2 linked regions of the Homo sapiens genome follow. The protein of the gene in region 2 interacts with the protein of the main gene of each other region in a pairwise test. Each region holds a gene or a part of one and is shown on either strand. Other genes may lie near its edges. The genes, in order: FOXP2 and TSACC.

Region 1 (3,987 bases), on a different chromosome or scaffold from region 2:
CTCATGTCCATACTTCTTTTTAAAGCCATTTTTTAATCCTGTGGAAAGTCCTTTATTCAAGGTACCCTTTCACTAGGATGACAGAAAATATTAAGTTATGCATAAAATTAAAAAATTCTCAACAGATTCATTTTCCTTTTACTTTTGATTGTGAGGAGATTTGGAAGTTAGGTTAAAGTAGGAAGTGAAATTTTCTAATGCTGAGGCCCTATCTTGCCTGTTTTTTTCCACTAATATGGGTCTGGAACAGATCCCTAATATCCTAAAAAGCATTTTCTTGGAAGCTACTTACCTATCTCTGACACATTCCCCTAAACCATGGCTGGATGCTGTGGGTGTGACTGATATTCAGAGGCAAAACAAAAAAAGACAATAAAGCAAAAAAGTCATAAAGTTAAAAAGAGTAATCATGTTTTCCCCTGGCATTTTTTAATGTTCAGAATTTATAATGTCAAATTGTATCAGAATAAAAACACGAAAACATGAGATAAGTGTGTGGGGAAGCAATTTGGAACCTGAAGACAGTTTTTAATGGAATGCATTTGACAAGCAGCCTCCATCTTTACATTTGAGTATGGTCTGGTTTATGAATCCCAAATCCCTAAGAAAATAATTTTAAACAAATTGTGGGACATGTGTATACAAATTTATGACTTGGCTCTGGCATGGAAGAATGGTCTCTCCGAAAGAATAAAATCCTATTGGTTATAAATGGGTCAAAAAGAATTAGATTTTTTTATTTATACTTCAGAAATGTAATCAAGTGAATGAAATGGTTTCATATACATTTTTACATCCAACAGCAGTGACACACTGTTCATACATTAATTCTATAGTAAAATGTACATCCTTCTTTTTTGCTAAGTAAGATATGCCAAGTGTTCATGGACAAAAAAACCTTTCGTTGCAACCTGAACTAGTGAAATAACAAGGGTAAGCCATGTTCCTTTCAATAGCTTTATAGACTTAATAAAGCTATTGTCCAAATGTGTGTTAATACTGGCATGTGTAAGATGAAGTCTCAAAATTCTCAAAAATGTAAATGTCCAACTTGAAAACTTTACAAAATATCATATTGGATTTTGCGACTGAATCTGCCCAGGGACATTAAAGTCCAGGATGGTTTATGTAAGTGTACTTCTGTAGCTCTATTCCTAGCTGACTATTCTTCGATTCCCTAATCACAAAGAAATGCATTCTTATGAAGTTAAGCAGCTGTAGACACAGAATGCTGATGACATTTTCTCCATATCTGAGTTATCTAAAGAAAACCCAGTTAGTGGTAATTCTACCAAATACTTGTAACATTCACATAAAATTTTAATTGATTTTCAAATAGTACAACTGTGCCACGAATCCAACCACATAGAATATAAGCCTTAAGCCCACTAGGTTTAAGCAATTGTGTCTTTGTAGACTAAAACTATGTAAAATAAAATCTGATAACTCCCTGGTGTTAGAGGTAGACAGTTTTCTTTCAAATCCTAGGTTTGGTCCTTTATTTTATTCAGCAGTGAAAGCCATGAATACAGAACGAATAACAGCTGTTACAATTCTCAACCATGACTTCTAACGTCAGAGAATTCAAAGTATGAACATAGTACACAGTAATGAAAAGTATCAAAAATTAGTTTACCTCAAAAAAGATAAATAAAACAGGTATATTCCACCAATACATAAACAGATGTTTGTGCTACAGTTTAAAATTTGCTGTATACAAAAGATCATAGTCCCCATAATCAGCTTATGATAGAAGCAAGAATACATGAGCCATTTAAATTGTCAGACATTATGCTTTATAAGGTATGCACAGAAGTTCAAGCAATAAATACATACATTAGTTCAAAGCCTTACAATAGCTACGCAAAGCAGATGCAGAAAAGCAGATTTGCTATTACTAGCAAGCAATGATATAAGAGTAAAAATTCATGAAATGCATTAAAGCAACATTTTTCTTAGAAAAAGTCTGGTCATTTATGGGTCCACCAACATTTTTACATAATATGCACAATTATCAAAATACAGACCAAGCATTTCAGGAAACTCCAAAAAACCTAAAATCTATTTTCAAAGCAATTGCAGTTTTGGAGGTTTTTCTGGTATAATGTGCAAGCAGCTATTTTTTAAAATTGTATTCATATAAAACCCATGCAAAACTCTACAGGTATATGCATTCTGTGGCTGAGACTTCCTTTCAAAAGTTTTCTAACTGAGGTATGCATACTTTAGCATTGTAGTCTTAGGCCACCCTTCTGATGGTACAACTCTCGCAGTTACTTCCAGTCCCTCAAAGCCTTTTGAACATGCACCTGAAAGACCCATTTTTCCTTTCAGATAATCCTTACAGTAGGATCCTAGATGACTGAAAACCATCTTTCACCATACCCATCTTTCTTTTAATACCATATTGTAAACTTCCGGTTCGTTGATCATGACCCAAAGACAAACATAATGAAAAGTAGCAGTTACTGTGACGTTCTCACGTTTCATGCAATCTGCCATAATTGTTCTAATGTTTTTCTTTTTTTTTTTTTCTTTTTTTTTTTTTGCAGAGGTAGAAGCTTTCAGAAAGCCTTTTGGGTAAGTGGGAAAACCCTTTTGAAAGCCGTTATGTCCTTTTATTTGGTGTGATAGATGACTGGGTATCTCTCTAACTCTATTTGCTGACTTCAGCAAAGAATCAATGATGAGCTTAGTTTGCAAGAACCGGTTCCATCACATGGAACGGGAACGTATGTTAAGCTCTAGCAGCCACCTTCTGTCAAAACTGTTTGTAAAGCAATAACCATAATCAGGTTATGAGGTCCCTTGGTTGGGGGAAAAAGTATTATCAAGACTTGGCACAGCACATGAAAAGCAACATGTTAAGTTTCTAGGTTTTAAGCAAACATCTGACTATGCTATTTTCAACTACATCATAACTCATTATCATAGTTTTGGGGTTTGGAATTGTCAAGAAAACCAGCATTCCAACAATTTGGCCTGTGCAAGTCTTTGAAGGGAGTGTATTGTTAGTGTTAATATCCCGTATAAGCAGAGGCAGAATTATATGTAACTTTGGTTTGACTGAAAATAAATACCATGGACTACAATTGCTATAATCTTTGCTTTCAGTGTAAAAACTCAGCTAGATCACTTTAAAATCAATATGAAATTAATTTTTGGCTTTACTAGACCTTTTATGTTTGGTTCCTACTTTTTGTTTTTTCATTATAACTTAAGACTATAAAAAAATAGTACACAACAAAGATTAAGACCATACAAGACATCTTCTAACAACATGTATTCACCACTGAAAATAACTGACTGAATGAGGGAAAACAAAAACACAAAGTACTATATATATAACAATATGCAATCTGCATTTGCATCAAGTACATAATCGTTTTGGTCAGTGATCCACATTTGTTGCTTTCTAGCATATCATAACTTCCACTGCGGATTTTGTCCTCACCTCTGTCTTTAATGAAAGCAAATCTTCATTGCATTTAGATGGACTTTTGGCCTCAGAAGATTACTCTGTGACTGAATTAACATTTTTTAGTTGTGGTTTTTGTCATATTTGTTTCTTTGTTTAGGGCTAAATGAAAAGATCCCAGAGGTCATCAGAAAACAGCAGGTAGTTCATGGAAAAGGTTCCTTTGTACTAATTGAAGTTACAGAAGGCTGACCAAAGCATGTGGCTGCTTCTGTCCTTGAGCTCTTGGCCATGGTTAGAGTTGGCTTTGGTTTGCAGCTGTAGCCTTTGACTGTGTTTGCAGGTAGACAAAGCTTTATCACAAGGAGGTAAAGAGTACAGTTGTAAGATCTATGCAGATATGCAAATGTTTCTATGGTGCTTGCACAGATAATGTTAGCTTAGGATTGCACTTTACATCTTAACACTAACAGCACAGACTGGAAGCCTAAGGTTTTAGATGGTTGCAACAGTCTAATTACTGTGTTTTGTAATAACTAACTTATGTCATTTACAGTTGGTGGCACCAA
Region 2 (2,985 bases):
GTGCAGGGATCTAATTAGAAAGGCTGTCCCTTGTTGGAATGAGCTCTGATTTAGTTATCTCTGATTTAGTTCCAGCCAAAGAGGAAGCTAATGCTGTGCCTCTCTGTAGAGCAAAACCCTCCCCCAGCTATATTAATCTTCAAGCAAGTTCCCCACCAGCCACTTTTCTGAACATCCAGACAACAAAGCTGCCCTCGGGTAAGGATGTAGGGAGGGTTTTCTAATGGACTCAACAGGGGGAAGGGTTGCATGGAGGAGGTGGCTTGAGCTGTCGCCTATTGATCAAGAGCCAAATCTATGTTAGGCATCTATAGATCTTTCCGTGATAGCTTGTTGATTATTTAGTTTCATTGATATCATTATCATCCCAGTTCTACCAACTTGTATTGTTTCCTTGCTTGTTAGCACTTTTGCTAGACTAGGCAGGAGTGAAGTGAACCTCTCATTGCTTACTGGTAATGTTAGTTAAAAGATGGCCAGGTTTACCCCTGTTCACTTGGGAAGGTAAAATTTTAAAAAACGGTGGCTAGAGAAGGAAACTATTAGCTCAGTCTCAGGGTCTTTGAATTTTCATCATTCATCTTCCCTTGGGGAGGTCAGTGGGTATTTGGCATAGCTATGGGGAACCCAACAGGGCACTAACTAGACAGTCATAACCCCTGTTTTTGAGGACCTCAGAGTCCAACAAAGAAGTCAAGACTGATAAAAATACAAACAGCAGATAATATAATTACCAAGGTTAACTGGCTGTGTAAAATATTAGAAAAAGTGGCTGGGCACGGTAGCTCATCCCTGTAATCCCAGCACTTTGGGAGGCCAAGGCAGGTGGATTGTCTGAGGTCAGGAGCTTCAGACCAGCCTGACCGACATGGTGAAACCCTGTCTCTACTAAAAATACAAAAATAAGCTGGGCGTGGTGGCAGGTGCCTGTAATCTCAGCTGCTTAGGAGGCCGAGGCAGGAGAATTGCTTGAACCTGGGAGGCGGAGGTTGCAGTGAGCCAAGACTGGGCCATTGCACTCCAGCCTGGGCAACAAGAGTGAAACTCCATCTCAAAACAAACAAAAGAATGGACTGGCAGGGCTCGGTGGCTCATGCCTGTAATCCCAGCACTTTGGGAGGCCAAAGCGGGCGGATTACCTGAGGTCAGGAGTTTGAGACCAGCCTCACCAACATGGTGAAACCCCATCTCTACTAAAAATACAAAAATTAGCTGGGCATGGTGGCACCTGCCTGTAATCCCAGCTACTTGGGAGACTGAGGCAGGAGAATTGCTTAAACTGGGAGGTGGAGGTTGCAGTGAGCCAGGATTGTGCCGCTGCACTGCATCCTGGGAGACAGAGCAAGGCTCCATTGAAAAAAAAAAAAAGAAAAAAGAAAAATATTAGAAAAAGAATGGACTGGCCAGGTGCAGTGGCTCACACTTGTAATACCAGCACTTTGGAAGGCCAAGGCAGGTGGATCACCTGAGGTCAGGAGTTCGAGACCAGCCTGGGCAACGTGGTGAAACCTCGTCTCTACTAATGATACAAAACTTAGCCAGGCATGGTGGCACATGACTGTAATCCCAGCTACTCAGGAAGTTGAGGCAGGAGAATTGCTTGAACCCAGGAGGTGGAGGTTGCAGTGAGCTGAGATCGTACCATTGTACTCTAGCCTGGGTGACAAGTGAAACTCCGTCTCCAAAAAAAAAAAAAAAAAAGAAAAAGAAAAAAAACAATGGACCAATGTAGCAAGAATGGTTGAAGTTAGGGAACTTCAGGTCACTGCTAATGATACACTATGTCAAGTAACAGAGGAGGCTGAGGTATCCCCTGAGCTCTAGGGAAGGTAGGCCTCCCTCCCAGACCATTTCATTCACTCATCAAATATTTGTTATATGCTGGGCATTTTTCTAGGTGCTAGGGTTAAAGTAGTGAACAAATCAGATAAAAATCCTTGCCTTCCTGGAGCTTACGTTCTAGAAGGGGGACTTAGACAAAAATTAAGTAATTATAAAATATGCCATATGACCATAAATATTATGGGAAAAGTGAAACAAGGGAGGGGGTAATAAGTTCCAGTGATTGATTTCAAATTAAAATAGGATAGCCAGGTATGCCTCACTGGGAGGTGACAGCTGGGCAAAGGTATGTCTGGGTTGGGTTGTGCCTGGAAAGATTGGAGAGGTCATTTTATTAGGGTCCTTCCAACCTCAGTACAATTACCAAATCTCTCTCCTTTGTTCCCTTGCACCTCCGTTGCTTTTCCTTCTGGAGTTGATCACAAGCCCAAGGAATGCCTAGGACTCCTGGAATGTATGTATGCAAACCTCCAGCTTCAGACCCAGCTCGCCCAACAACAGATGGCTGTTTTGGAACATTTACAGGCATCTGTGACACAACTGGCTCCTGGGAGGGGAAGCAATAACTCTTCTCTCCCAGCCTTATCTCCTAATCCATTGTTAAATCACCTGCCCCAATTCAGTAAATGAATTGTGGAACAAAGTTATTGTGTTGTTTTCCTCTCTCTTCCCAGTAAACCCTTGTTGGAATCTGGGTATATGTATTCTACATATGGTTAGTTTGTTCACAGGTTCATAATAAGTGCTCACTGAGTGCAAAGCGTTGTACAAGGCACTTGGGGTTACATATTACAAAAGGAGTTTGCAGGGATTACTGTCTAACAAAGCAGACAATTCATTGCAAAATGTAGTGGTATTCTGAAAGAGGATGGAGGTTAAGAACTAACACTGGAGGTTACTAGGATACAACTGGACCAATTTTAGAATCTTGCTGGAGAAAGTGGCTTCATGATGCCACTTGAAGAAGGGAGGGGTTGGATGGCATGGACAGATGAAGTCAGGTAGTTCCATATCAGTTGGGAAGCTTGGACAAAGACCTAGAGGTAGACGTATTAGTCCATTCTTGCATTGCTATAAAGAAATACCTAAAGTTGGGTGATTTGTAGAGAAAATATGTTTATTTTGGCTCATGGTTTGGTTCTG

The links.
Region 1: the proteins of TSACC (region 2) and FOXP2 interact in binary tests that used the Homo sapiens proteins (3 or more experiments, as listed by UniProt).

The regions. Positions count from the first base shown.
Region 1 is NC_000007.14:114,690,491-114,694,477, reverse strand, and holds the end of FOXP2 (forkhead box protein P2), read right to left. Parts: 3' UTR 713-3,987; downstream 1-712. UniProt on the Homo sapiens protein: Transcriptional repressor that may play a role in the specification and differentiation of lung epithelium. May also play a role in developing neural, gastrointestinal and cardiovascular tissues.
Region 2 is NC_000001.11:156,344,511-156,347,495, forward strand, and holds the end of TSACC (TSSK6-activating co-chaperone protein), read left to right. Parts: intron 1-69; coding exon 70-198; intron 199-2,257; coding exon 2,258-2,472; 3' UTR 2,473-2,485; downstream 2,486-2,985.